2 separate regions of the Homo sapiens genome follow, and region 2 is reported to be linked to region 1. Evidence: microRNA targets listed by miRTarBase, many of them from high-throughput screens and not tested one by one. Region 1 holds a microRNA gene; the other region holds the end of a gene's coding sequence.
The links. The annotated mature microRNA hsa-miR-5088-3p reads UCCCUUCUUCCUGGGCCCUCA and lies in region 1 at 3,073-3,093, shown strand. An mRNA with a match to its seed (bases 2 to 7 or 8) in the 3' UTR can be bound and repressed. Matches are read on the target gene's strand: a 7mer-m8 pairs with bases 2 to 8, a 7mer-A1 pairs with bases 2 to 7 and ends in A, and an 8mer does both.

Region 1 (4,382 bases):
TCAAACTCCTGACCTCAGGTGACCCACCTGCCTCGGCCTCCCAAAGTGCCGGGATTGCAGGTGTGAGCCACCGTGCCCCCAAGCCACTTTCTGGAGTCCTCTCATTCTTAGAGGGTCCAGGAGCTGCCCATCTTCCCTGGGACCCTACCTTCGTGGGCAGAGGGTCATAAGGGAGGGGGTTGGTTCCAGCTGGTTTTGTTTGGGGCTCCTGAGTCCAAGGCAGGAGCTGGGGTCTGGGGTACTAGCTCTGGGGAAGTACCCGTGTGCCACACCTCTATTCTGGAATCCTCTCAGACATGAGACTGGTTTGCAGAGGTGGCAGATGCCCTGTGGGCATATCCTGCCAGCCCCGCTCCCTTCTGCTATTCATGGCACCCTAGGATAGGGGTGTGTGTGTCAGGAAGTGTCACCTAATCTGGAGGAGATTAGGTGATGAGAGGGAGCGACAGCTGGCGGTGGTGGGTGCCAATTCCCCTGGCCTGGATGGGGGAGGTGTGTGGTCAGCTGCCTGGCCAGAGAGGGGCAGCGTGGGGGTGGGCCACCATCTCTCCAGCCACAGCTGGGATAGGAGACCCCCCTTTCTTCTCCCCTCACTTTTCCCACCCTTTCTTAAACACCCCACCTCATTACTTGCCCCCTTCGCCACCACTCCCCACCAAGAAGGAGAATTGCTGGAAACCCACCCCCCGGCCAGAGCCCAGGTTCCGCCACCCAGCCCTCCCACAGCCACTCCCAGTAGCTAATCCTTTTTCCCTGTTACTCTCTCCTAGAATTTTGTAGCCACCTTGGCTAATGGGATGAGCCTCCAGCCGCCTCTTGAAGAAGTAAATATCCTTTTGTGAGACCCCTCCCCACCCTGACCTCCACATCAATATATCTTGCCACACATCTGGCCCTTTCTTGAGGTCTAACCATACCCCTCTTGCTTCAAACCAGTTTACCCCAGGCCCCCAGACACTTAGTAGCAACCCCTCCAGGTTCACAGCCCCCGCTGGCCTCCCCCAGTATCGCCGCTACTTCCTTAACTCCACCTCCAACCCCCCTTTGCCCTTCCCTGTGTCTGCCCCCATTTTCCTTCCCCTCCCCTCCCCAGCTGTGGGCTGAGCTAGAGACGGGGTCAGAGAGACTGGAGAGATGGTAGGCGTGGCTGAGGTATCGGGGTGCTCCCCTGGATGGTGCTCTGGGGGGGTCCTGGAAGTGGAAAATGGGGTTGTTAGGTTTTGGGGTTCCTGGGGGGGCAAGATGGCAGGCGGGGGCTGTAGGGTTGTCATGGTATGATTTTGGGGGTTCTATACTACTCTTCAGGGAAAAGTAGGGCGCTGGAGGTTTAAGAGGCTGTGGGGAGCCCCCAGATCTGACCCATGATCCCATCGGCCCCCTCCCAGGTGTCCTGTGGCCAGGCGGAAAGCAGTGAGAAGCCCAACGCTGAGGACATGACATCCAAAGATTACTACTTTGACTCCTACGCACACTTTGGCATCCACGAGGTCAGTGGGGACAGTCCCCAAGGCCCCAATCTTAGGGGGGCTTAAATGTTGGGGAAGGGGTGGAACCTGTTTTCCCACGCATGCGCACTGCTTCCCCTGGCCGCAGGCCGCCCCCCTGCCCCTCTGCTGCGCACTTCCTAGGGTCGCCTCGCCAAGCCGTTGCCTTGGAGACCGAGGTTAGCCTGAATCTCTGCAGGGGCCTCGCGCCGAAGGCTGGGGTGGGAGAGCGCATGCGTGCCTGGGGCCTTAGCCAGAGGTCGGGCAGGGCCCACTGGTCTCTGCCGCCCTCTAGTGACCGGCGGTGGGACTGCGCCCCGGCTGCTCCCGCCCTAACAGCTTCTGCACACTTCAGATCTGACTGAAGACACTGAAATCCCAGAACGAAGCTGGGGTGGCATTCTAAGGAATTTTCTTTTCCCCCTGAGGCCTTTTTCATAAAATTGTGGCAAAATATGCATAAAATTGCCATTTTTTATTTTTAGAGACGGTCTCGCTCTGTCGCCCAGGCTAGAGTGCATTGGTGCAATCATGGCTCACTGCAGCCTCGACCTCCCCGGCTCAGGTGATCCCCCCACTTCCACTTTCGGAGTAGCTGGGACCACAGGCGCGCGCCACCACGCCCAGCTGATGTTCTTATTTTTCTGTAGAGATAATCTTGCCTTGTTGCCCAGGCTGGTCTCAAACTCTTGGGATCAAGTGATCCTCCGGCTTTGGCCTCCTGAGGTGCTGGGATTACAGGCGTGAGCCACCGCTCCCAGCCTGAGGACTTTTAAAAGCCAGGGTTCACTGGTTCTTAGGTAGCAGTGGTGAAGTCCGGCCAAGATTGGAGTTTAGACCATCTAATCTGATTTTTTAAAAAGGGAAACTGGCTGGGCGCAGTGGTTCACGCCTGTAATCCCAGCACTTTAGGGGGCTGAGGTGGGTGGATCACCTGAGGTCAGGAGTTGAAGACCAACCTGGGCAATATGGTGAAACCCCATCTGTATGAAAAATACAAAAATTAGCCGGGCATGGTGGTGTGCACCTATAATCTCAGCTACTTGGGAGGCTGAGGCAGGAGAATCACTTGAACCCAGGAGGCGGAGGTTGCAGTGAGCTGAGATTGCACCATTGCACTCCAGCCTGGGCAACAGAGTGAGATTCCATCTCAAAAAATAAAATAAAATAAAAATAAATAAATGAATAAATATAAAAGGGAAACTGAGGTGCATGGAAGAAAGCGAGAGGGCCGAGCTCTGGCCCTCCGAGCTCTCAGGACACGCTGTTCTCCAGCTGGGGATATGGGGCCCCTCACGGCGTCTCTGTGCCATTCTTGCCCTAGGAGATGCTGAAGGACGAGGTGCGCACCCTCACTTACCGCAACTCCATGTTTCATAACCGGCACCTCTTCAAGGACAAGGTGGTGCTGGACGTCGGCTCGGGCACCGGCATCCTCTGCATGTTTGCTGCCAAGGCCGGGGCCCGCAAGGTCATCGGGGTGAGTCTCCAGGGTGGCCAGGCGGGGCCGGGCCTGAGGGATGGAGGGGAGCCCATCAGGGCTCAGGGATTGGATGGAGGTGATGGGGGCAGGGGATGGGTCTCACCCTCCCTTCTTCCTGGGCCCTCAGATCGAGTGTTCCAGTATCTCTGATTATGCGGTGAAGATCGTCAAAGCCAACAAGTTAGACCACGGTGAGCCCAGAAAGAGGATGGGTTTGTGGGAGTGGAGGGGGTGATGCCCTGCTTCCCCAGGGCCCTCTGAAGAGCAGTGGGGTCTACAGATGACCACAGATTCAGCAGCTCCCAACCCATGGTCTTTTGGGCTGCCGGCCGCCTGAGAATCTGAGTGTCAAAATCACAGGCTTAGCACCGCAGTCTTAAAATTAGGGCAAGAAGCACTCTCTAGTTTCTTGAATGAGTAATAGAGTCACGTGGTTGGCCACGGAAGGCCCACAGTGAGAAGCCTTCCCTGTTTCCCAGCTGCCCTCCTCTGAGTTTAACCAACACTAACTTCCAGAGAAGTCTGGACCTACAAACACATACATACGTAAATGCATTTACATTCTCGTGCATAATTTTCACGCCAGTAGCATTTCATACCAGCCTCTTGCCCTTGGCTTCTTACACCTGCTTGTCATGTCGTTTAACACTTTCCAGGATGTTGCGGCATCCGCTCTTTTGCATGACCACCATCATAGGTACATCCCCAGCATTTTTTTTTTTTTTTTTTTTTTTTTGAGATGGAGTCTCACTCTTTTGCCAGGCTGGAGGGCAGTGGCACGATCTCAGCTCACTGCAAGCTCCGCCTCCTGGGTTCAAGTGATTCTCCTGCCTCAGCCTCCCAATTAGCTGGGATTACAGGCGCCAGCCACCACGCCCGGCTAATTTTTTTGTTTTTTTAGTAGAGACGGGGTTTCACCGTGTTAGCCAGGATGGTCTCGATCTCCTGACCTCGTGATCTGCCTGCTTGCCTTGGCCTCCCAAAGTGCTGGGATTACAGGTGTGAACTTTTTTTTTTTTTGTATTTTTTTAGTTGAGACATGGTTTCACCATGTTGGCCAGGCTGGTCTTGAACTCCTGACCTCAGGTGATCCATCCACTTTGGCCTCCCAAAGTGCTGAGATTACAGGCGTGAGCCACCGTGCCATCCTGAAGTGATTTTTAAAAAGAGATTATTATAATGAACGCACGAGTCCATTTGAAGCAAATTCCCACTGTGATGTAATTTTCCCGGTAAATGCGTCTGCTTGTGTCTTATCTAATAGATAAAGGCTGTTTTGAGAATGTGATCATGCTGTTACTTATTATATCAAAACCACCCAGTTAAAAACAAAATCGCGGCCGGGCACAGTGGCTCACGCCTGTAATCCCAACATTTTGGGAGGCCGAGGCGGGCGGATCGTGAGGTCAGGAGAT
Region 2 (4,382 bases), not on the chromosome of region 1:
GTTTTTCTAAAATGTGAATAAACTTGTTTTATAAAAAGCAGGCTTGGCTGTGTCTTCCCTACCATGAGACTGTAAAACGCTCAGGGTGCATAGTAGGGAGGTGGTTGGGGATTGACAACCTATTCTGGATGACCCAGGCCTCTCTTCCCACCACAAACACCATCTGGCCTCCATGGGCCATGCCACCCACCCCAGGAGGGGACACCTGGGTTCCATCTGCAGCCTGAACTGTCGGGGCTGAGACAACTCCTGATTGGACTCCTACTTGGGGAGGGAAGCATAGAAAAGGAGGGTAGGTTCCAGCTGCCTGTGGTCACCCCCGCACCAGCTTCTCCCATGTTAAAGGGCATGGGCCTCCAGGGGCAGTGCCTTTTCTGAGCTTCCCAGACTTTCCCCAACTCTTCCCACGTCTCATTCTCCTGGTCAGGCTAGTCTTGGACCTGACTCCTCCCACTAGGCCCTGGGGCTGAAATTGTTGTTCCTTCTGACCCATAGCAGCAGAATAGAAGCCTCAGAACACAACTGATACTCAGGCTGGGACAACAGGCAGTCAGGGGAGGGCCTGTGTGTCCACAGAGCCATTGCACCCACATGTACTCGCTGTACCTGCATATACCCTCTACCCGCATATACCCACTACACCTGCATATACCCGCTTCACCTGCCTGTACCTACCCTGGGGTCTCCTCCCTCCCACCCTTCAGCTTCACCCCTCCTCCAGTGCCCCAGGAGTTTCATGAATTTTCTTGCCTAAGGATTCTCTGATCCTAAAATTCTTACCTGCACGGCACCTTAAGAGGCATCTGGCAGGCCTCCTTCAGTTGTTATTTAAACATTTATTGAGCATTACGAGTTTGCTGTCATTTTTACAGATGAGGAAACTGAGGCCCAGATATGCGATTTGCCCAGAGTCATAGAGCTAATTAGCAAGTGTCAGGAGTAGGACCTAGGTCTCCTGACTTGTTGCACTGTACAGTGGTGCCCTGAGTGGTGACAGTGGCGAGGAGAGGTGTGGCAGGGTCTCAGTGACTTCAGCAGGCAGGAGGGGCCTTTCCAGACTGAGTTTCTCTGCTTGTTCAGCTGCAATGGGTTGGCTCCTGTGTGAGTGCGTGTGTGTGGATACCAAGTAGCCCACCCGCTCTTGTCCAGACCCCCCTGTTTTACTGAAACCCAAATGAATCCCCATTCTCCATCCCAACATCTGTTCTTAGGGGACCAGTCAATGCCAGGCTTCAGGAATCTCATCTTTGATGACAGGGCCCCAGTGGCCCTGTGACCTGAGGCAAAGATATCCGTGTTTTGACTGAAAGGAAGGGACTGGGACTTGGGTCCTCTCTGAGTGAACCCCAGCTGTCTGGGCTGCTTCCATGGCCCCCTTTCTTGCTTCCAGAGGACCCATAGGGCCCTGGCTATGCCCATAGGACCCTGGCTGTGCCCCATAGGACCCTATCTGCCCAGCCTGGAACAGAGAAGACTGGAGTGCTTTCCCCAGGGGGCTTATGAAAGGGCAGGAGTGGGATGTGGCCAGGGCCAAGGGAGGAGGTCCTTGCTGGGCCAGTGCTGCTGTGTGGGAGACAGGCGCTGTCCCAGGGCAGGCTCTCCTGGGCCTATGCTTTTCTCCAGGCCAGCTTCAGGTCCCTTCCACCCCTCTGCCTCTCTCAACTTGCAGTTGTTCTCCCTCACTATCCAGGAAGCTGCCGCTGGTGACTGGGATGTGATCAGGAAGCAGGTGGAGGTGGGGTGAGAATATGCGTCTTTGGGACCCCCTGGCCCAATTGGGCTGACAGCAGGCTGCAGACACATCCAGATGTTCTAACTCCTATCGCTTCTCTCCGATTTTCTCCCACATTCAATCTTGCCTCCAGTCCTACAAGGGGTTCTGTCCTTTGCCCCTAAAACTCTTCCTGCTCCACCTCCCCCCGACCTCCCCAGGAGCCCCCTCAAGTCCTTCTGATGGCTTCATCTCTCTGTCGGGCCTGCTCAGCTTCCAGACACCCCCTCCACTTGTCACTGCCCTGTTTCCATTGATGGTTGAGTTTCTGGGCCCAAAGTTAAACTCTTCAGCCTGGGCTTCGGGTCCCTTTCCCACACATAAAACCCCACCCTTCACATTTCTCTGTCTGCTCCTGTGAGGATCCTCAGCTTCTTCTCAGCTTCTCTTCATCTTCCTCTCAGCTACTCCTCAGTTTCTATGCCCCATGTCCTGAAACGACTTCCAAGTATTCACTTAGAGCACAGGTTCTCAAAGTGTGGTCCTCAGTCCAGCAACAGCAGCATGACCTGGGGACTTCTTAGGAATGCATGGTTTTGGTCCCCACCTCTTGGGTCAGAAACCCTTGGAGTGGAGCCCAAAAATCTGTGTTTTACCAAGCCCTCCAGGTGATTCCAACGCACACTGGAGATTTCTAACTCCTGACTTACATATTCCCTATGCCTTACACTGGCCCCAGCCTTCTGATCACCCACACTCCCCTACCCTCCACGGGACTGCACAGGTTGTCAGTTTGAATTATCCCTCGTTCAGTCACCACAGGTAGATTCCTCTGTTTTCCCAGGTGCCCCTTATTTTGAGGACAGGAACCAGGTTTTTGAATGTCCACTCCACATGGCACCCAATCAGTGATGTGAATGACTGTGCCCCAAGGACACACTGCTTTCCTAGGGGCTCCCTGTTTCCCAGCTCTAGTGAACCCACTTTCTAGATCTCTCTCCTGGCCCTTCCTCCCCAGAACCTCTCTCTCTCTCTTCCTGCCTGTGCCTGATACCTGTAAGATCTCACTCCACTGTAAGAAAATAGCTATCCCTGGTTTTCCTTTCCCAGGCCCCTCTCCAGGCCCCAGCTCAGGCACCTCCCCGCTCTGCCTGCTTCCCTGAACTTGCGGACTAAGGTCATTCACACCTTGCTGAGCCCCTTGCACGCCTTCATCCTGGTGAGGGTGGAGCTAGGAGGGCACCCTCCTCATGTGCCCATCTTGGTCCGGCTCCTTTCTCCTTCACTTCAGCTTGGCCTACCGTGTCATTAGACAGTTGTGCCATATGTGGGGAGGCTGGCAGAAGAGGTGACTGGGGACTGCAATCCATCCTATACTCTGCTCCCCAAGCCATGCACCCTGGTTTGGGGCTGTATCTGTCTGGAGGAAAAGGGTTCCTTTTTAAAATTTGCACAGGGGTGTTCTACAGGTTAGTGGCAGCCCTGAGTGGACCAGTTGTCTACTGGTCCATCTATGTATCTGTCAGCTGTCTTTATCTGCTACCATCTTCCCATCCAACCCCCAAAAGTCCATCATTCTGTCCATCCATCCACTCATGAACAAATGTGAAGGTCAAACACAGACTGGCATTTTCACCCGGCCCCACCCTCCATTTCCCTGAAATCAGGACCCCTCCCTTCCATACTGGTTTCTAGACTTGAGGTTCTGGGGGACGGGGACTTTCCAACTTTAGCACATTTCCAGGGGCTTTGCCTTCCTCCTCCTCCTCCTCCTCCACCACCTCCGATATGCAGTTCCCCATGTATCTGTGTCTGGCCCCCGGTCTGCCACAGGGGTCTGGAGGAAGCTGGTCACACCTTGGACTCACTCTCTGGGGGTGGCAGGCAGCCATTCTGCTCCTTGTCAGCCCCAGCTTCCCCACCCGCCCCCTCCCCCGCCCCCTCCTCCTCCACCTTCTCATCCAGCCGGCTGGGGATGGACCAGTAGAGATGGGCATCAAGGCGGGCGGCAGCCTCTGCCAGCTCTCGAGCACTGCACGAAGGTGTGGGCACCTCAAAAGTCTCGTGAAAGCTGGCATAGTCCACTTCGTAGAAGCCGTCCTCCAGAGTCAGCACTGACGTGAAGCGGTGGCCCCACAGCACCTCGTCTACCAGGTAGGAGCTCCGAGCTTGGCATGTCATTCCTGGGAGGAGGGGCACCGGTCAGGGGGAATCTCAGCTCCAGGCTTCCCTCTCCTCTTCTCATTCCACAACCCTACTCCCAGCACCCTCCCTTCTATTCCTTCCTAAGGGCTCCCACCTCCCTTTGGTCCAGTCCATTTCCCCCCCTCCCTAGCTCCTGTTCTTACCCAGCTCCCTCGTGTCTTCTCCATTTGCCCCAACTCCTCTTAATGTCCAGCTCTTTTTTCCCCTCCTGTCATTTGGTGATGCCAACCAAAAAAAGCTTAACCTTGAAACTAACCTTAGGGATCCTCTAGTCCAACTTCTCACTCCATACAGGGCTCCCCAAAGGAGCATTTCTAACAATGGGCATCTAGCTTATACTTGATTACCTCCCAGGATTGATAGCTCACCACTTCATAAAGGGCCCACTCCTTTGTATGATAGCTCTAATAGTTGGGTTGTTCTTTATACAGAGCTAAAACCTGTACCCTGGGATTTCCAACTCTTG

Region 2: miRTarBase lists KCNJ9 as a target of hsa-miR-5088-3p. Seed matches in the 3' UTR shown: 7mer-A1 at 3,385-3,391 and 7mer-A1 at 1,636-1,642.

What each region holds. Positions count from the first base shown.
Region 1 is chr19:49,679,102-49,683,483 of GRCh38, forward strand. MIR5088 (microRNA 5088) reads left to right here and starts at 3,016; the gene lies at 3,016-3,094. It overlaps PRMT1 (protein arginine methyltransferase 1), which reads left to right. Exons shown (of 11, transcript NM_001536.6): 2 at 771-824; 3 at 1,386-1,487; 4 at 2,809-2,964; 5 at 3,095-3,158. RefSeq lists silencers at 1,445-1,814, 1,661-1,825.
Region 2 is chr1:160,086,998-160,091,379 of GRCh38, reverse strand. KCNJ9 (potassium inwardly rectifying channel subfamily J member 9) reads right to left here. Exons shown (of 3, transcript NM_004983.3): 3 at 817-3,894. The coding sequence ends at 3,563. It overlaps IGSF8 (immunoglobulin superfamily member 8), which reads left to right. Exons shown (of 7, transcript NM_052868.6): 7 at 1-37. Among named protein-coding and RNA genes, the nearest start is that of KCNJ9, 7.7 kb to the right of the region's middle.